Linked DNA regions of Homo sapiens. The protein of the gene in region 1 interacts with the protein of each later gene in a biochemical or structural test. Each region holds a gene or a part of one and is shown on either strand. Other genes may lie near its edges.

Region 1 (9,533 bases):
AGCATCCCCATGCACCACCCCTGCAGGGTGCTGCCCCAAAGTTTGGCAAATCTGTGTCCTGTTGGCCGGTGCAGAGTTCAGTGTGGAACCAAAAAAAGAGAAAAAAGTGGAAGGCACAGGACTAGAGAGGCCATAACAATGGCTGACACCTGCTGAGCATTTAGTGGGTGCCAGGCTCTGTCCTGAGCACCTTCCCAGATATGAACCCATAGGGCTGCTATGAGGGCATAGTAAGTTAATACATGGGACATGCTTGGAACAGTGGTTGGAACACTATAGCAATAATAACAATTAGTATTATCTCTGTAACCCTCACAATCACCCTCTGAAGTATATTGTAGTGTTACCTGTGGAAATGGAGGCAAGGAACAGTGGACTAACTCACCCAATGTCACACAGCCAGTGAGGGGCACAGGTAGAAATTCAACCCAGGCATTATGGCTCCAAAGTCCATGCCACTGTCACCAGGCAATACAGCCTCTCTCCGTATTGGGAGGTGGGAGTACCCTGTAGCCACTGCAGCCTGAGCCTGCCCAGCGAGGGGCTTCTTGCCCAGGGAGGAGTGGTTTGGCAGGAGCAGCAAAGGAGACCTTCCAGGGGAAGCTGAATTCTTCCCTTAGGTAGCAAAGAGGCCCTGGGACCGGGGCTCGGGGGTGGTGGGTAAGGAAGGACTGGCGCCCAGGTCTAAGCTCCGGTATGCAGCATCAGTGTCCTCTAAGCCATTTCCTTGCCTGGTGTCTGTTCACCTAAGACCCTCATTAGTGCACATAGGACTCCGAAAGACTGTGAGCTTGAGGCTCAGCCTAATTGTGCCCACACCAGGACCTTGGGTGTATGTGGGGAGAAGCACCTCTCTGTTGGCAGCACTCCCCTTCCACTGGGGGTCCTGGCTTGGTGCATCCTGGTCCTTGTAACCAGCTCAGATCACTGAGCTGCTGCCTCAACGTGTTGGAGACCCCCAGGGTTGGAACACCAGGAAAGTGTCTCTGCTCAGCCCCAGCGAGCTCTCAGACACTTCCAGCAAGCAGTCGTCAATGCGGTGGACATGGAACACTGCTGAAGGCCAGGCAGCAGGGGCAGATGCAGGAGCTGAAGGGGGCTGTTGGGGAATAGGGACAGGGACCCAGGGACCTGCAGCAGTATTACCGGACCCAGTGAACCAGGAGGAGTGTGAGATGGAGATGCTGGGCGGGGACAGCATGGCGGCCCACCTCATATTTCTGCTGCTTGAACTTCTCCTGCAGGTCGAACTTCTCTGCCTCCAAGTTATAGATGCTCTGCCACAGCTCCTTGGCCTTCTCCCTGCACGGGCAAGGGTGAGAATGGGGAGGTCCAGTAAGAAAGGGCCCTCCTGGGCCTCCGTCCTGGTCCCGGCCCAGCCCCCAGCATCCCAGCCCTCCTTCCCACCTCCAGGCCTGCCAAGGGTACCCCAGCCCACCCCCTGGGCCTGACCCAGCCTGGGGACCAGACGGCAGCACCCAGTGCTCAGGAACGGACACCAGGGACTGCCAGGGCAAAGTTCCAAGAACAAGCGGGGAGCAGGAGAAGCCCTTCTGGCGCAGGAGAGCATCTAGTTCAATCCCCTGTCCTGACACCCGTGTGCAGGTGGGTAGGTGAAGCTCAGAGGGGTGGGGCACCTGCTCAGTTCTCTTTCCCCATCAGCAAAGCCCAGAAAGGAGTTGGCCCGACCTGCTGGGGCCCAGCTCTGGTCCCACCAAACTTGCCATGGGAAAATATGTGAGGCAGTCCTGCCCTCTGGTGGCTCACAGCAAGAAGTGCCCTTGGCCCGACCCCTCCCAGAGCAGATGCGGGCAGTGCCCCAGGACCATTCCTCCCAGCCCCCACCTCAGCTGATCTTCATTCAGGTGGTCAATGGCCAGCACCTTCCTCCTCTCAGCCAGAATCTTCTTCTTCTTTTCCCGCTCAGTCTGCCTCTTCCCACTTTTCCGCTCTGTCTGGAGGGTGTGGGAAGCAGAGTAAACTGGCCAGATTGCCCCCTCCCTGTCCCCTAACCCTCCCCAAACCCCCTGGGGGTGGAGCAAGGCCTGCAGGAGGGCCAGGTTCTTATGCTCTTCTTCCTGCCACACCCCCCAACTACCAACTACATGTATTCCCTAGGGAAACTGAGGTAGGGGCAAGAAGGATCACGTCAGTCTCTTCCTTCTTTGCCTAACTAATCTCTTTCACCTCTCACCAGCTTCCCCCCTCCCCAGCCAGCCCAATCTCTTCACTCCTCCCCTCCAGCAAGGCGCCTTCCCCTCCCAGGGAGCTCTCCAAAACTATGGGGAGGAAGAAGGCTTGAGGTTTTTGGTACCCACCTGGGCCTGCTAAACCGGGAAACCATGAGAGAGAGGCCCATAGAAAAAGACCAAGACGGCAACAGAGACACAGAGAGAAGGCAGGAAGACAAAGGCAAGGAGAGACATGGAAGAGAAGATTCAGATACTCGCTGTAGTCAGCCGGGTTTACTAGGACGTGGGTCTGAGGGTTACAGCAGGGGCTGTTCGGTAGCATGAAGACTTTGATGCCAAAGTCTTGGCTGGTGTGGTCACCATGGGGGCAGAGGCAGGGGGTGGCCTAGTCCTGAGCTAGGGACTAAGCTGGAAATCTAAGAAAATGTTTTGATTCCTTCACTACCTAGAGAAAATCAATTTCACATATCCCTCCTCCCTCGAGAATGGAGGACCTAGGAGGAATGGGGCACAAAAGTTAGGGATCGAGAGTGAGTTTCCAGGAACAAACAACCTCACATCTGTGTGGCACATAGACACTTTCCATGGTAGCTCATTTGAGCTTCTCAAAGCATCAAGGCAGGCAATATGAGTGCCAGTTGAGGAAACCGAGGCTCAGAGGTTGCAAAAGGTCACACAACTGTATGTGGCAGAGCTGGGTCTCCAACTAGAGCTCTGACTCTAGGCACAAGGCTCTTCCAGCTGCACCCAGCCTCCTTGGGGGCTCCTGAGCACTGCTGGAGCCAGGCATGGGGGGCACCATTGGTGCCCCAGGCTCTGCCTGTAGCCCCCTACCCCAGCAAGCCCCTCCTAGTGCAAGCCGCGGTCAGGCTGAAAACCAGCTCAGGGCTGGGCATGAGGAGACCTCAGTCTTCCACCCACAGCAGCTGGGAATCTCTTCCTGGGACCTGACCTAAAGTCTACCTGCTGCAGTGGACACCTCATTCCTCAGGGCTATACTAGGATCTCCTGGCAACCCCTGCTGCTCCCTACCTACCTTCTGGATGTAACCCCCAAAATGCATCATGTTGGACAAAGCCTTCTTCTTCCGGGCCTCATCCTCAGCCTTCCTCCTGTTCTCCTCCTCCTCTCGTCGAGCCCTCTCTTCCTGATTTACAGCAGGGAGGAAGAAAGCAAATTAGGGGAAAGGATTGGAAACCCTGATTCTGGGCTGAAGCTTGTGGTCTTTATGGGTGAGTTCAGCTTTCTCTCCGCTCAGCAAGGAGCTTTCTGAGAGGGTAGCTCCCAGCACAGTGCTGGCCCACAGGAGTCCACTGACTGAGAAATGACTGCGTGATTGAATGAGGTCCTGATTCCCAAATGTGAGGTCTCGTCATCCCCTTAAGCTGGGAGTGCCCCTGGAAGACCTGTTGCTCTGGAAATGCCTTCAGCAGCTGCACAGGAAGAGAGCTACGGGGCCTTCGGTTCCCACGAAGTCTGCACTGGGGAAGGGATGAGGGCTGGAGAGTCTTATAAAATAACACGTTCATAAGGACGCAGGCATTTCTGTCTTGTTTGCTGATGTATTATCAGAGCCAAGACAATGCCCAGCACTTCCTAGGTTGATATTGATATTGTCTCTTTTTTTTCCTTTTTTTTTTTTTTTGAGTTGGAGTTTCACTCTTGTTGCCCAGGCTAGAGTGCAATGGCATGACCTCGGCTCACTGCAACCTTGCCTCCTGGGTTCAAGCGATTCTCCTGCCTCAGCCTCCTGAGTAGCTAGGATGACCGGCATGTGCCACCACGCCTGGCTAATTTTGTATTTTTAGTAGAGACAGGGTTTCTCCGTTGGTCAGGATGGTCTCGAACTCCCAACCTCAAGTGATCTACCCGCCTTGGCCTCCCAAAGTGCTGGGATTACAGGCGTGAGCCACCGCACCCGGCCAATATTGTCTCTTGACTGATTTCATTCATGTTGATGAATAGAGAGGGGCCTGGGGGCCCAGCAGGAGCTGGGAGCATGGGGGGCCTCCATGGGCCTGGGCTAGGGGTCACTCACAGCCAGGCGGTTCTGCCGCTCCTTCTCCCGCTCATTCCGGATGCGCTGCTGCTCGGCCCGCTCTGCCCGACGTCTCTCCTAAGGAGAAGAGGCAAAGCCCACCCAGGTGTGCATAGGGAGAAGGTGACATCGCAGGTACAGAAACCTGCATGGGGTGGCAAGGGAATTCCTGGGGGAGGGTTCCTTCCAGAGTCTTGAAGCAATGGTGCCCGGCCTCCAAGGGCCTCCACTTTCAACCAGCTCCACGGACGTGCACACCAGGGTACCTGCAGTGACCCACCTCCAACATTCCTCATGGTGAGACTGCCCTCCACAACTGGGAGACATCAGGCAGGCTCCTTCTGGGCTCTGCCCCCACCTCCATCCCACCCTGCCCTGGCAGCTGCTCTGTGCCATATGCTTGGATAGATGGCCAAGTCATTGCTCCAGCCAGAGCAGCATGTCTGTGGGAAGGCAAGTTTGATGGGGAGAAACAAAAGCAATCAAAGCAGCCTCCACGCTCTGCAGGAGAAGGATGTGGGATTCTGCAGGTCACACTCCCCTTCATCTGCGGGGGAAGAGGAGGCAAGGGCAGGGGTGGCGCAGCAGGCCTGTGACCAATCAGTCCACAGCCCGGGCCTGAATTAGGCCCTGGGGGAGGCCTGAAACAGATCAGACTCAGCTCTGGCAGTCAAGGAGCATCCAGTAGGATGGGGAGGGAAGGCAGGGACCCGAGAAACCAGTCAGGGCTGCAGGAGCTGTGCAGAATGCTGGAGGGCCTCTGAAGGAGACCTCACACCTAGCTGGGTTTGAGGCGCCGAGGAAGGCTGTCTGGAGGAGGTGGGGCCTCACAAAAGGGATGGAGGACAGACTGGGCCATCAGAGAATGTTAGGTGGGCAGACTGGACACCTACGATCCTGTCTTTGAGAGAAACGAGCTCCTCCTCCTCTTTCTTCCTGTTCTCAAAGTGAGCCTCGATCAGCGCCTGCAACTCATTCAGGTCCTTCTCCATGCGCTTCCGGTGGATGTCCTGTGGGTGGACCGCTGCGGCTCAGAGGCTGCCACTCCAAAGAGTCCAGAGGAGAGATGGGTGGGCTAGACACCCCCCAACGCAGTGCAAAAGACCTCTGGCAGGGCCTGGCGCCTGGCCAGGGAAGGGGTAACTGTGGCCTGAACCCAGGACCACGCTCATGGATGGGCACCCAGCCTGGCTGGTGCTGCACCCCATCCCACCTATGCTCTACCCCAGCCCAAGGTCACAAAATCTCTGTCACTGAGGGCCCTTGGGACTATCCCCAGCCCAGGCCTACTCAACCCACAGCCACCGCTTACATCAAAGTCCACTCTCTCTCCATCGGGGATCTTGGGAGGCACCAAGTTGGGCATGAACGACCTGTTGGAGAGAGGAATAGTCAGCATCAGCCCCATTCTGGACCCAGGGACTGAGGGTGTCCAGGACAGGCAGGGCCCTGATCCTTCCTAGAGAATCTTCCAGCACTGCCCCGACCAACCACAGCAATGATAGTAACACTGACGTCAACAATGGCAGTCCTCAGCCTTGCTCAGCACCTGGGAATACACAAAGCTCTTTCACATATGCTATTTCACTTCATGCTCATGATATGCCCATGAAGTGGGTACCGTTAATCTCACTTAGGAGAACTGAGGCTCAGGGAGGTAGAATGACTTGCTCAAAGCCACACAACTTGGAATCAAAGAAGCTGTGACAAGATGCCATGCTTCTTGGACTTCAAATCCCCTGGTGGACCCCGCAGAAACTGGCCATGAACCTGGGAGTCTTGCAGTTTGGTCCTGGTCCCAACACATACTGAGACCCAGGGGGTTCTCTGATTCTTCATGTCCCCATCTGCCCTCAGGTGTGTGGAGCTGAAATGAGATACCGCAGTGCACAAGAGGCCAGGAAGGGGGAAGGCACTGGGCAAATAAATGGATCTGGGATGTCTTGGGCTGGTTTCAGAAGGCCCCACTGAAATGGGAAGAGCCTGTGAGTGGGCAGAGGTGCCATGGGTCAACCTCTGCTGGCAGGGTTGGCATCATAAAAAGGGAAATGCTCCCTATCCCCCAGCCCCCCCCAGCACACACCACCTTCAGGTGGGCTTCACGTGTGTGGCACCAAGCCGTCCTGCCCTCTCTCAGCTCTCTGAAGCCGCCATGCCTATGCTGGCACGGTTTCATTGTTTGGCTCCCCACAATTTGCTTCCCTTAATCCCAAGGTCCCACCTCGGCCATGGAGGAGGGTGTTCTGGCCATACTGTGAGAGAGGAGAGTGTCCGTTCAGGGCCCTTCCTCTAGAAGAACATAGCCCCATCCCTGCTAGGGTGCACGATTGGTGATGGAGTGTTGGGTGGAATTCAGCCCTCACTCACTCCCTTAGGAAGAGACGCTTGTGCAGTACACAACTTGTACAACTGTACTGTGGTGCTCTGTGCCCACCAAACCCCCAGCCCGTGTCCACTGCACCATACTGCACCCCGTTCCATCATCATCCTCTCTCCCTGAGCCTCTGCTCCCGGCTCTACCCAGGTGCCTCCCCACTCACCTGGGCTTTGGTTTGGACTCCTCCATTGGGCCATCTGGAGGAGATAGAAGCACACAGCCATGGGTCAGGGGGCCCCAGAAGTGGTCCCAACTCCGCCCTCGATGAGCTAGATCCCTGTGGATTTCCATTTCCCCATCTGCACAGTGAGTCCCTCCCGGCACTGGGGAGCCCTGATTCCAGAAGCATCCAGGAGAATGAAGGCAGCGGGGGCTGCAGATGCCACACTCCCCCTCCCATAGAGTTCTGCAGGGCACACACTCACGCAGTGTGGAACTTCACACAAAGCCTTCTCTCACTCACCAGTTCTGGGCAAAGCAATTTTGCTTCTCTTGTGCTTCACAGTGACAAGGCCTTTGGAAAGGTCCCCAAGGGTCCTGGCCCTAGAATCCCCTCCCAGGTCTTTGCCTTCTTTGTTACCCCTTGGACTTCCCGGTGGCCACAGGGCAGAAGCTGATGACATGATTCCAAGCCCCAGCTGGTTGTCCCCTCCCCTTTGGAGAAGTGACTGGGACCACTTAGAACCCTGGTGAAGGCTGCAGCATGACGATGACTGCAGCAATGACCCACCATGACCATCTATGCATTGGGATTTCATCCTACGGACACCACATCCTACAAGTGATTTCACCTAAGCTCTAGGAGCTTCATGTGTGGATATGACTTCTGGGTCCCATTGCTCTGTCCAGACCAGGGGGCTGGACAATGGTCCCCTCTCCCACTGGGTGCCACCAATGCAACTTCTCTGGGAGAAGGGGCAAAGTTGAAAGCTCAACATCTAAAACTTTGGAAGTGCCACCAAGTTCTGTCCTCTCCTCTCCCAAACCCTCTCAGTGCACATCCACTTCCCTGGAAAGAGCACTGTGGGCATTCTCCTCCAAAGCTGCTGTGAGGGGTTCCTTTGCCTCCCTTGTACCTCTCTCCTGATATCCTTACCTTCAGCCTCCTTTGCTTCCTCTTCTTCTTCATCTTCTAAATGAAACACGAGAAATCAATCAAGGTCCTTGTTCTGAGCTCAAGTCCCCCCCTCCGCCACCAGCAAGAGCCTTCCCCACAGATAAGCCCTAGCCAAGATGCACTCTGTTGGTTTTTGGGGTTACAGAGCTGTCTCTCACACACACATTCCCCTGGACCCAAGACTGCCTGACACAAGAGAAGCGCTGGGTCAACGTTTGTTGATTGGGCAATCAATGGTTGAATCTTAGTCAATAGGAGAGTCAGGTGCACATGGGAAAGCCTGTTCTGGGGGGTTTCTTACTGCCTCAGGAATGGCTCCAGGGGCTCTCGCCACCCCCTGAGGCCCCTGCACCCTCAACCAGAGACTTACCTTCTGCCCTGGTCTCCTCGGTCTCAGCCTCTGCTTCAGCATCCTCTTCCGCTGCCTCCTCCTGCTCTGGAGAAGTGAAGCAGACAGAGTGAAGAAGCAGGCCCCACTCATGCTATCAGGCAGAACCCAGAGCAGAGAATGGGCAGCGGGGAGTGGGGATGGGGGTCAAGACGTCTAGGTCCAGATGAATTTGGGGGCAACCAACGTGCTGGGGGGCTGCCATTCTTGGTTTTGACTGTCGGCTACCTCCCGCCACCCAGCTTAGCCCCACTCATCCCGGCAACCTCCCTGATGATGGGACTCCACCTCATTCCCCAACTTTCCAGCCCAGAAGTTCCACCCCGTGTCTGGCACCACAGAACATGCTCTGCTTAAGCCGAGGTGTCCAGAAGCTCCTGTCCTGAACCTAGTGACTCTAGACACCCTCAATCCACATCTCAAAGAAACCAAAAGAGTACGACTGTGTGGCTGGATGGCACACTCAATATCTGGATCTTCGTACTATCCAGAAAGTGGGCAGGATTTTTCTATTTTCATCTATTTGTTTGGCAGGATGTGGCCCCCATCTCACTCAGGCACTTGGTGTAGACAGACAGACAAACAGATAAGGGAGACAGGATGCCGCCTGGCCTGGGCTGTGCCTGTAGGAAGTGTTCTGTGATGCCTGTTCACTGATGCACTGGGAAGTGGGTGCCTCTTGGCAGAGGGAGAAGAAAAACCTCAGACAGGAGGAAGACACCATCGTGGGAGAAGGGTTGGCCTTCATTCCCTCTGTCCTCCCTTCCCAGGTCTGAGTCCTCTCTGAAGCCTGGAGATGCCTTTTATTTGATCCCTGCAGGAGTCTTACCTCAAAATGATCCTTCTAGAAAGTGTGAAAGCAGAGGGCTAGCGAGGAAGGACATGGCCATTGTGGGGTCTACCTTTAGGCCATCTTGTTCACACCTCTGCCACCTCATCTGACGTGTCATTTCTCTATATAATATACCCCAGCCCACCCAGTGGCCATGCAACATCCCAAGGATGGGGAGCTTACTGCCTCCCCAACCCACCTACTGCATCTTGAGATATAGCTGTCAGAACGCACTTTCTAAAATTAAGCCCTGGTCTCACTCCCTTGCCTTGGTCCTGTGCTCCCCATCAGCAGGGCGCATCTGAAGGCTGACGTCATGTCCTTCCTGCTCTGGCTATTTCCAGTCTCCCTGGCTGCTCTCCAGAGGACTCTGTCCCCAGACCCCCCAACCAACACCTGGCCACCCTGCTTGGTGCTGTCCAGCTCCTAAGGAGGGCCCAGCATGGAACACTGGGGTGTGCGCGGGGGCAGGGTGGCGCTGCTGTCTTCCAGGTGCCAGGTCCCCTCTATGGCCACATTTGGAGCAGCTTGGGAGACCAGCTAGCCTTGGTCCCTCCCACCACCCAACCCAGGGGAAGGATCCAGGAAC
Region 2 (10,901 bases), on another chromosome or scaffold:
ATAGTTGCAGGGGTGATGCACACAGCTAAGGCTCTCCTAAGCTCTTTGTCCACTGCCCTTTGGAAGCTTTTTAATTGATAGCTTGCCTCTTCTGCCTCGGAAAGTCAAGCCAAAGGACCAACTTCTTTTCACACCGTTGGATTCCATTCTAAAAGCTAATTAAGCCTAGAGGCCCAATTAGAAAAGAATTCCTTGGGAAGTTGGTAACAATTCCAAGAATGTGTGAGCACCAGGGAAAGCTATGCCAGCAGTTGAAACACCGAGAGCAACAGCAGACTTTTTTATATGAAAGTAACATGCAAATAACTGAAGGGTCTCAGGTCTTGAAATTAGTGAAGTCTTTTGTAGCATGAAAGGCTTGAGATGTATATCCAGGTGTGCTTTGTAAATGAGAACTCCAGAGACGACATTTAGGATCTGACAAAAAGAAATTTTCAGTGAAAATCAAGCTTCCTGGAAAGGGGATTTGGGGGGAAGCACTGATTTCGCTAAAACATTTAAATTCTAAACTACCTGGCTTTGGAAAAAGAGCCAAAAACCATATATGACTCTGAGCCTACTTTGTATAATGCAGATCAGATGCCTGCTCTATATATGGCTAAATGGAAGATGCCTGCCTCCCGCAAATTCTCCAGCAGGACGTTTATTTAGCTTTTTCAAAAGAGCTGCTAATAGATCAAGGAAAGATATTCCTTATAAGGAAAAGAATGCAGAGAATTTGAAAATAGCCCAGTAAGACTGAAGGCAAAAGAGGGAGAAAAAGGTTACTACAATTCTTAAGGGAAAAAAATAGGATAATAATTATTGTAACTATGTAGTGCTAACATGTCTTTATTGAAAAGTCTTGTTGAAGGGAGCGCTGGAATGGGGTGGGGCAGAAATGGGAAAGAAGTTATTTAAAGTCAGCTGGTGTGGGAAGCAGCAGGGGAGGGAGCTTCTTGAATCTTGTTTTGGTTATTTTTCCCACCGGGAAACTGCCCCTAAATCTGGCATATATGGCTTTTTTGATAGTGTATTGATCACATTCCCTTTTAGGACACTTTAGGTTGTCTGGAGTTTGGAGCCCGTAGGAATATTGAAGAAGTTAGTGAAGAAATGCTATACAGTCATTTGTTGATTAATGAAGGGGGATAAGGTCTGAGACATGTGTCGTTAGGTGATTTATTCATTGTGCAAACACCATAGAGTGTATGGTACTTACACAAACCTAGAGGGTATAGCCTACTAAACACCTAGGCTACAAACTTGTACAGTGTGTTACTGTACTGAATACTGTCAACAATTGTAACACAAATCACCAGGCGATAGGAATTTTTTAGTTCTATTGTAATCTTATGAGGCTACTCTCATATATGCAGCCCCTCATTGACCAAAACATCATTATGCAGTGCATGACCATATTGAGAGTATTCGTTTTTTATTTACTAAAAAATAGTCAAAACTTGAGGAGGAAGAGACAGATGTCACTAGAAAAAGGGAGAAGTCCGGTAAGGGAGAAGTCAGCTTCCTGAGGTGGAATCGTATTACCTTTGGGATTAGGACATTTCATTGTCATTATTCACCAGTGTAAAACACTTTTACATTTTTCTACTATTATTACTAAAAACATTTTTCTACTACTTTACAAATCCTATTCTGGAAGTGGGCTCTACCTAGCTTAGAAGATTGTCATTCAGGAGTAGTATCCCTGATGGTCTTGTTTCGAATTTTGTGTTGTCTTTCCACCTAAGTCAAAAGTGAGGCTGAAGGGGATCGAAGACTCCATTTTTTTCTGGCCCCCAATCTCTTCCCCAGTAACTGTGATATATCTGATATTTATAGCATATGAGTCTTTATCCCTTTGTAGGTCTTTACTTCTTAACTTAGGGATTCTCAACCTTCTCTAAACATAATCACTTAGGGAGCTTTTAAAACCCAAAGTTAGGATGCACCCAAAGCCAGTTAAATCAGAATCCCTGGGGATGCAACCCAGGCGGCAGCATTTAAAAAATACCCAAGTGATTCCAACCTACAGACAAGGATGAGAAAACTCTCCTAAACTCTTGTATAATGACATCGGCATGAAAATGAACTCACCTGAAACTGACCTTCCCAGGACATTAAGTCACTAGTTGGCTGCTTATGGCACTTGCCAGTGTCCAGCAGTTTCCTGGCTGCTCCTGGAGGTTGCCAGACACCCGGTTCCCCCATTCTCAATGTTGGAGGCCCACAGTCTCTGCACTTAGGGGACCAGCTGTAACCTCCCCACCTGACCAGATGAACCGCGGGGAAACAAAGCGAGAAGCTCCCACCTACAGGATGCAAGGACCCAAGCTGGGATTTGTGAGAGTCTCAGCAGAGGCTGTGAGGAACTCCACAGAAAATGAGGCAGGAAAGCAAAAGTTCCTTGTTAGGGCTTGGAGGAGGAGAGGGTTGTCAAGCATGTTTTCTTTATTATTCCCACACATAAGGGAGCTGGCTTTAAGAGCTTTCTGTGACAAACCTGAGGAGAAAAAGCCCTGAGACTTAGAAGGCATTTAAGAATACAGCTCAAGGGGGAAATCGGTGGAGACTGTATCTGCGGTGGTTTTCTCCACCTGTAGCCAGAGGCTCTCTCATAGGGTTCTGTGGCTTTCCTTGGGGTGCCTTTTAAAGGCATCCCAGTCCAGCCCAGGACTGACTGGATTCCAGGAGATCTCAGAGGCTGGTCTGACACCAAAGAAGGCTGTAAAGAGAAGAGACCATTTGGATGACTGTTTTCATGGAAAGTGAGCCCCAGGGAGGCTGGCCTGAGATTACACAGCTGATTATGGGCCTCAGCCTGACTCTTAAAACAATGCTTGTGTATTTCTTAATCGTAGCTATCATTTGAGTTTTTAACTATGTACAAGGTATTGTGCTAAGCGCTTTACAGTCCTTCATAATTCTCATAGCAGCCCCATGGGGAAAGTACTATTATTATTCCCACTTTTACAGATGACGCCCAGAGAAGACAGGTAATGTGTCCGAAGTCACGCAGCAGGAAACTAGGAGCCAGAGTCAACCTAGGAAAACTGCATTTAGAACAGGAGGTCTAACCACTGTGCTCTACACGCGGGTGGTTTTCACTTCGTGAAGTTTTGGGGAATGGGGGTAGTGCTTGGGTTATAATCTTGCGGTTGGGATCAGGCCCTTTAGGGCATATTCCGGCTCCAGACCCGCCGCTCAGCTTCTCTGGCTCCCGGGCATGGGAATCTGGACTCGGGAGCGGAGCGCTCCCGCGGCCAGCAGGAGTCGCTATTGCCCTTAGCAGCCAGCTCCGTTACCCCGGGTCACCACCGCGCCGCGGAGGGGCCCTAGAAGTGGAAGCCAGAGCCCTAGTGCAGTGGCCTCCCGGAGCGCCCAGCTCACCAGGTACCCCCGCAGCGCGCCGGGAGCGCCTTTCTCCCCGCCGCCGCGAGCATGCGCAGTGCCCCCAGCCAGTCCCGGGATCCACGGCGCGCGCCCCTCCCAGCCGCGCGCGCCCGCCTGCGGTTTGTCTGCGCAGCCCTGGAGGCTGCGACTTCCGGACTGCTCCTGGCCGCAGGGGGCGCCGCCATCGCACAGAGAGGCCTGGGCGGGGCGGACCGGCGCTGGGCAGCCAGGACAGCCGCGGCAGCCGGGTCCGCAGGGCAGCAGCCGGCCTCTCCCACTGCAGCCCTCCCGCCCGCCTACCGTCCGGCGCGATGGCGGGGAGTAGCTCGCTGGAGGCGGTGCGCAGGAAGATCCGGAGCCTGCAGGAGCAGGCGGACGCCGCTGAGGAGCGCGCGGGCACCCTGCAGCGCGAGCTGGACCACGAGAGGAAGCTGAGGGAGACCGTAAGGGATACACCCATCACCCCGCAGCCCCCAGAGGCGCATCCTCCCGGGGCAGCCCCGCAGGGCCCTCCTGCTTCCCCCCCCGCAGGCCCCGGTCCCTCGTCCCCACGCCTCCAGGGCGCACCTGGCGCACCTGGGCCAGCTGGCGGCGGGCTCTGGGGAGGGGCCCGGCCTGTTCTCCTGAGCCTTTGTTTTCCATCTCGCTGATCCAAAGTAAACGCTCCCAGGGGAAACGGGTGGTGTTGAGAAGGTTCTGGAAGGAGCATTTTCCCAGGAAGGGTCTGTTTCTGGGGTGGTGGCTTTCAGTCGTGTCTGTGCGTCCCCGGGAGGTGCACTTTGCGCTGCTGGCTTGCTTTACTCTGAGAGTGGAGAGGGAGGAGGTCCTTCCTCTTGGAGATCCGTACTTTGAGAAGGGGCGCCGACAGGTCAAGTGGGAGAGGCACTGTGGACTTGGGGCCCGGGGATGCTACACTCCGCCGTTCCCGTCGACCCTGTGGTTTCCCGGCGGCCTGTGTCTCCGAGGCGGTAGACAGACATTGACAGCTTGACAGCGCCGCGTTCTGCTGGAAGAGCTAAACTATAGTGCAAAACCCTTAACCCGTCCCTTTTTTCAGCAGTCCTCCTCCCCTTTTCTCTCATACAGATAGATAATGCTTTGTTACCAAGTCTTGGAAAAAGTTGGCGAAATGTCAACAGTTATTGGGTGTATTCTCTTGCGGGCTTCCCCTCCCCCTTGTTAAATGTAATACCTGGCTTCCTTCCTTTCTTCTAAGGCAAATGTATCCAGCAAACACGAACAGGATTTCAGAGGTAGTCTAGTATTGGATATTTGTCGATTTTGTGTGTGTGTGTTTTTAATGAAGATACTGAAACAAACACCTTGGGAGTTTTATGACAATTGATAGTATGATGTCCTGCTGTGCTTAATATACGGGGTTGTTCTGAGTTGAGTAAATCGTTCTAGTTAAGTGTTTGTAAATGGCTGTATGGCTGGCCACAGAAACTTCAAGACCTGAAATGGTCCTCTTCAGAGGAAAGCTCAACTAGAGAAAGTTTCAGATAAAATACAAGCAGGAATAAGGAAATTAATAGGCAAAAGATAATTCTCAGTATTTGCTTTATAGGACGAGTCAGCAAAAGTCCTGTGGATATCCCTGAACTTGGCTGGGTGGTAAACTAATTCCGACTCCCTTACTCGCTAGTAGCTGTCCTTGAACCATTAGAACTATATAGAATATGATGGATAAAAACAAGAACTTTGGACCCAGACTGTCAGAACTTGAATCCTGTCTCCACTACTTACTAGCAGTGGGCAAGTTACTTAATCTCTGTGTTTCAGTTCCCTGTGTGTAAAGTGTGGATAGTAACAGCATCTACCTGTCGGTTAAAGGAGTTACTATGTAAAGACAGTACACTGATGCTTGGCGCAAAAGGGTAAGTGCTGTGTGCCCGCTGTCATTAAAACTGCACAGCCCTGGCAGCCCAGTGCTCCTTCACCTTCAGTTCCCCACCCAGCAAGAGGTCTTAAAGATGGCCTGCTCATTTCATGACATCATAAAACACTTCATTTACTGCTTTTAATCAACATTTGTTGGGGCGGGGGGCTTGAATGAAGAGGAAGTGGGCGGGCTGGTAGGCATGTTTGATGGGTTAAAGTGGTATCAGTGGTAGAAGTCTGAGGTCTCCTCACCCTGCTAAGAAAGAGTATGTGTGACCCTATGCAGGAGAGCCTTGTATTGGCTCCTGGCCTAGTGATTGATGTTAGACACAAAAGATAAATTTTATGAAGGGCACATTATTACTTTTATTCTTACCTTCTCTTTTGCACGTCGTTTTTATAACAGAACTCTTCCTGTGCCAGTTGGCTAAAGATAGTACTTTCGTTCTTTTCACGGCTTTATATCAAAAGTAGTTTAAGTAGTTTCAATTTTTTTAAGTAATCTTTGCAAACAATCTACCTGGGTGATTGATTGAACACAGAACCTTTTAAGACAGCAACTTGAAGACTGGATCAGACCATTGAAGAGAGACTTTCAGGCTGCAAGTTGTTCCTAACTTCTGAAATTGGAACTTAAATGTAGCTGACTTAGGTATTTAGATGTAGCTTGGGCTGTGAGTTAAGCTAGCAGTAACAGTTTCTTTTGGCAGCAAAGATAAAGGTTTAGTGACAAAACCATGAGCCACTGCAAAAAATATTTGACCAGAGAGTTGGCCTAAATTCAAATACTCAGACTGTAATTAATAGGCCCTATTAAACCAGCCCTTACCTTGGAAAAAGCAGCCATCCCTTACTTCCTCCTAGTCTGTGTTTCCAAGGTGTGTGGATCCTTCAAAATGTTGGAATGAGGCTACTTTGCTTGACATGATTGATTCCAGATCTTGTGACCCACTAGGGTTATGTTTGCTTTTTTTCATTATTTAAAGAAAAAGGCAGGATGAATCTTCCTTTCTGAGTAGTATCCAGCAAACAAGGAGACAGGGAGTTGTGGCCAGAAGGTTCTTAATTAGTAACATGATTAAATCATGGGAAATAACCAATTTACAAAAATTCCCAGCACTTTCCCTCTTTACACTTGGTAAGTATTTCCGGGATAGGAAAACCGAGGGTGCATTTTGTGCTTGCATTGGCACTCCCAGAGTGGCTGTTAACTGGAATGTATACTCTCGATTTCCGCTTTCATATGTAGGCAAGGCAGAGGCACTACAATGCCTTGTTCATGTCTGTTCTCCCTCATTATACAAATATGCTTCATAAATTATGGGCTTTGGCACACACAGGAGGTTGTGTTTATCTGTTATCCATGGGAGTGCCCCTTAATGTCATCAGTGTTTTTTTTTTTCCCCCCTTTCCTTACCATATAAGGGCAGAAGTTTAGCTTGGCTGTGGTCACTTGGCCTTACACAGCAAGTTGGGTGAAACCTTCTTCGTATAACTACAGTTTGCATGAAATAAAAAGACCTGACCTTTGATCATCCCAAGTTCCACTCCAGTTCAGTCAGGACTTTGGAAACATATTCCAGAGGATTGATTTCTAGATTATAATATTCTCCCACCAGTATTTTTTCTTAATAACCTTAACTGGAATACTTTTTTAAAAAGTAAAAGTCACTGCCATTTTTAATTTTCTGTTGTTGTATTGGCTAAAACATCTGGATTTCATGAAAATCTAGGCCTCATAAAAGTTGTTTTTTTTTTTTTTTTTCAAATCTGATTTGGGATAATATTATACTATGGTGGGGTGGGCATGCCCTTGATTTCTATATAGTACCATGTTGGGGTGGGGGAATGGGGTGCATGCCCTTAGAGGAGGGTCATATGCATTGTAAGGCACCTCAAGTACAGAGCACCAGGAAGTTACTTAAAAACATCTGCAGGAGGACATTGGTAGCCTTTACTAATACAGCAGTCTCTTTTTTGAGTAGTTCATTGTTAGAACACAATAGCACTTTTGAAATAAAAGAAACTAGCATCCCAGATTGAAAGACTTCACTGGCAGTCAGCACATGGGCTGCTGTTAGAAGAAAGCTAACTTGGCTGGGTGCAGTGGCTCATGCCTGTAATCCCAACACTTTGGGCGGCCGAGACGGGTGGATCACCTGAGGTCAGCAGTTCGAGACTAGCCTAGCCAACATGGCAAAATCCCATCTCTACTAAAAATACAGCAATTAGCCGAGCATGGTGTCACGTGCCTGTAATCCTAGCTACTGGGGAGGCTGAGGCAGGAGAATCGCTTGAACCCGGGAGGTGGAGGTTGCAGTGAGCCGAGGTCATGCCACTGCACTCCAGCCTGGGAGACAGAGCTAGACTCCATCTCAAAGAAAAAAGAAGAAGAAGAAGAAAGCTAACTCAGTACACTAAGAGTGATTTACATGCCTGCAAATAATTTGTGTCTGGGGTCTTGACCCTCCCCAAATGCCTTGTTATTTATATCTCTGCTTTTAGATAACAGATGGTCATGTGTCTATGGGCTTGTACCGGCAGAGGCAACAGCAGGTCCTTAAGACTCCCCAGGTGCCATGATGAAAAGAACCTTAGAAAATATTGAAATAAGCTCAAAACTTAAAAAAAAAAATACCAGAAATAAAAGCTAGTAAAGGTGAGAGGTGTGGGGCTTTTGGAACATAGAGCATAATAAATCAGAATAAAAAGTAAAAATAAGAAAGAGAAAAAAGTGGCCCTGATTAAATTATAAAATTAAGCATATCTTGAATTCTAACGAGCCAAACAAAAATTCTACTAGGCCAGTATAATAGGGCCTGCAGAGCCTGTCATGGGTTCAGGGTTTTCCCATAAAGATAGGTGTACCTCAGATACTACTCCTAGGTCCTGGCTTTAACCTCAAAGCCCCTCTGCCTGTCCTGCTCTGAAACCTCTGGGGCAGTAGGCATTGACTTCTGGGCTAGGGAGTAAATGTTCCGTGTCCTTATGTGAGCTTCCTATTACCCATTAGCATTGTTTTATGAAGTTTTCAATTTTATATCCTGCCTCATTTCAAAAAGATTGTGATAATCACTTTAGCAGATGATTTGCATTGCAGCAACTGTTCTCCCAGTCCTGGTTAGGATCTGTGCCTGAGGCCTTTTGTGGGGAGTTGGGGTGGGGGCCGGAGAACATCTCAATCTGATCTCAGGAGAGATAAAGACACAGGAGTGAGAACTGCCAGTTCCAAGGTTTCCGTGATGTTCCGGGAAGCCAGGAGAAGTGACATAGTGGAGAGCCGGCATGCTGGGAGCCTAGTGACTTGGATCTTAATCCTGTCTCACACTGATGGCTGTATGGCCTCCACATACTTCTGTGCCCAGGGTCAGAGTTCCCTCCTGCCGCCTGTTTCTAGTCAAGAGCTAGAAGAATAGCCAGCTTCTTTGGGTGGTGGCAAAGGGGATTGTTTATTTATAGTACAGATTCCTGCCCTCCCCCTTTGACCTCCTGAATCAGAATCTCTAGGGACACGGCCTGGAAGTTTGATTTTTTTTTTTTTTTTTTTGTTTTTGAGACAAGAGTCTTGCTCTGTCGCCCAGGCTGGAGTGCAGTGGCATGATCTCGGCTCACTGCAGTCTCTGCCTCCCGGGTTCAAGCAATTCTCCTGCCTCAGCCTCCTGAGTAGCTGGGATTACAGGCATGTGCCACCATGCCTGGCTAATTTTTGTGTTTTTTGTAGAGACGGGGTTTCACCATGTTGGTCAGGCTGGTCTCGAACTCCTGACCTCATGATTGCCCGCCTCGGCCTCCCAAAGTGCTGGGATTACAGGCGTGAGCCACAGCGCCCAGCTGAAAGTTTTTTTTTTAATGCTCATCTCTGAGTTGATTCTGACACTCAGCCACTTGTGGGAATTGCTGATCTGGACAATGCCTAGGGATCCTTCTAGCTAAAAAATTGAGACCCTATTTTTTGGATTTACAGGGCCTCCTCAGGAAGGGGCAGCCACTCTCAGGTCTGCTGTGTGTGCCCTACCATTCCTCCCACTATATCACAAACTGGCACCTAGAAACTGGTCTCCATGCCCAGTCGTTGCTGGGGCACCCTGTATGAAGCCCTGCTGGCTGGTATTCCTGTAGGACATATTCTCTGATGTCCAGGAGTCTGAGGTTCTACAGAATGCCCCTGGGGAAACAAGAGTGGCATTTAGACAACAGCATTCTGTAAACACAGTGCCAAGAGCTAAGGGAAAGAATGGGGGTGGGGGTGATCGGAGGGAAGACACGGATGGATTGGTAGGGGCCCTTTGGGTAGGAAGATCTCATGTGCAAGGCTGGAATGAACATGAGGTGCTGTTTCCTTCCTTTCTGGTGACTCGGCTGTGTGGGGAGCTGGGGATAGAGACCTGTCACCCAGAGGGTTCTTTCCCCAAAGCATAAACAGTCGTCTTTCTGTGAGTACAAAGTCCTTGAGGTTCAGGCCCAGATCTAAAGCAGAGCAGAGAACTTGGAACTTGGTAGCTACAAAAAAGTTTTGAAAATCTTGCTGGCATTTCTCTAATAGGCCATAGCCTCTGTAACAAGGATATTTGCCATCATATTGAAAATGATAAGAAAGGGGGAAAGAAAAGAAAGTGTACAGTGCTTTTGAGTACATAACCTAGACACTCTATGGAGGCTTTTTGTTGTTGTAGGGCTTTTGGTTTGTGTGCTTGGTTTTTTTGTGTGGCTTTAAATTTTGTTTTGTTTTGTTTGCCCTTTGTTTTTGCTTCCGCTTTGAGTCTCCCCCCCACCCTCAAAAGGAATAGAATTTTACTGGAAAATGAAAATATAGAAAAGTGAAGAAATCTTACCTGACCCAAAAGTATATCCTTAATATATACATCCTTCCAGTAATAGTAATAAAAAAAAAAAGCCTAATGGTTTTTAAAAGACACTTCCCTATAATTGAGAGATTTGTTATCCTATTACCCTCACCCTTCAATACACACACACACCAGAAACAACAGTCATCTGCCAGTAATTCCTAGCTGGGTCCATTTACCAGCTGTGCACTGATAATGATTTACTTTGTAGGCAGTACAGTTGTAAATGCTCTTCCTCTGATTTATTTCACATTTGCCCTGCTCCCTGCCTCCATCAACCAATTACTACATTTTTGTCAAGATAAAAGTGTATTTACATGTTTTTATAGAGTCCTTCACCGTGGTTGGAGATGCCCTACTCACCTCTCTTCCCAGATAAAACTTGGCATTTAAAATCTTACAAATCTAGGTGAGCAAAGAGCTGAAGGTTCTCAGATTCCTTTGATTAAAGACTATGACCACAGTTTCTAACTACATTTGCATTTCCAACTCTGTATTGTGGATCCATAAGCTGAGAACGTTGCTTTTATTAAAATTAGGTTGGTTTTACTCATCTTACTGAGCCCATACTCTGTGCAGAGAACTGTGAGTTCTCTGGATGTGAGCAGCTTACAGTTCAATGACAAAGACAGGGCTGTGTGTAGAGAAATTTGTTATCCTATTACCATGGGTCCCTAAGTGTGTATTGTAATTTCTAGAAAACTCCTAAGTGTTCTGAAAACCCCACCACCCCTTAGTGAACATACATTCAAAGTGGATGAGGATATTTTACCTGATTAGTAAATTCCATCTCCCACTTCCATG

Evidence for each region.
Region 2: the proteins of TNNT2 (region 1) and TPM1 form a complex in vitro, tested with the Homo sapiens proteins (one study listed by BioGRID).

What each region holds. Positions count from the first base shown.
Region 1 is NC_000001.11:201,360,068-201,369,600, forward strand, and holds part of TNNT2 (troponin T, cardiac muscle), read right to left. Parts: intron 8,161-9,533; coding exon 8,095-8,160; intron 7,740-8,094; coding exon 7,704-7,739; intron 6,805-7,703; coding exon 6,771-6,804; intron 5,604-6,770; coding exon 5,543-5,603; intron 5,241-5,542; coding exon 5,124-5,240; intron 4,309-5,123; coding exon 4,231-4,308; intron 3,340-4,230; coding exon 3,229-3,339; intron 2,328-3,228; coding exon 2,319-2,327; intron 1,956-2,318; coding exon 1,846-1,955; intron 1,303-1,845; coding exon 1,212-1,302; intron 1-1,211. UniProt on the Homo sapiens protein: Troponin T is the tropomyosin-binding subunit of troponin, the thin filament regulatory complex which confers calcium-sensitivity to striated muscle actomyosin ATPase activity.
Region 2 is NC_000015.10:63,044,893-63,055,793, forward strand, and holds part of TPM1 (tropomyosin alpha-1 chain), read left to right. Parts: intron 1-1,141; exon of another isoform or gene 1,142-3,683; coding exon of another isoform or gene 3,684-3,815; intron 3,816-3,948; exon of another isoform or gene 3,949-4,495; intron 4,496-5,154; exon of another isoform or gene 5,155-5,249; intron 5,250-10,901. UniProt on the Homo sapiens protein: Binds to actin filaments in muscle and non-muscle cells. Plays a central role, in association with the troponin complex, in the calcium dependent regulation of vertebrate striated muscle contraction.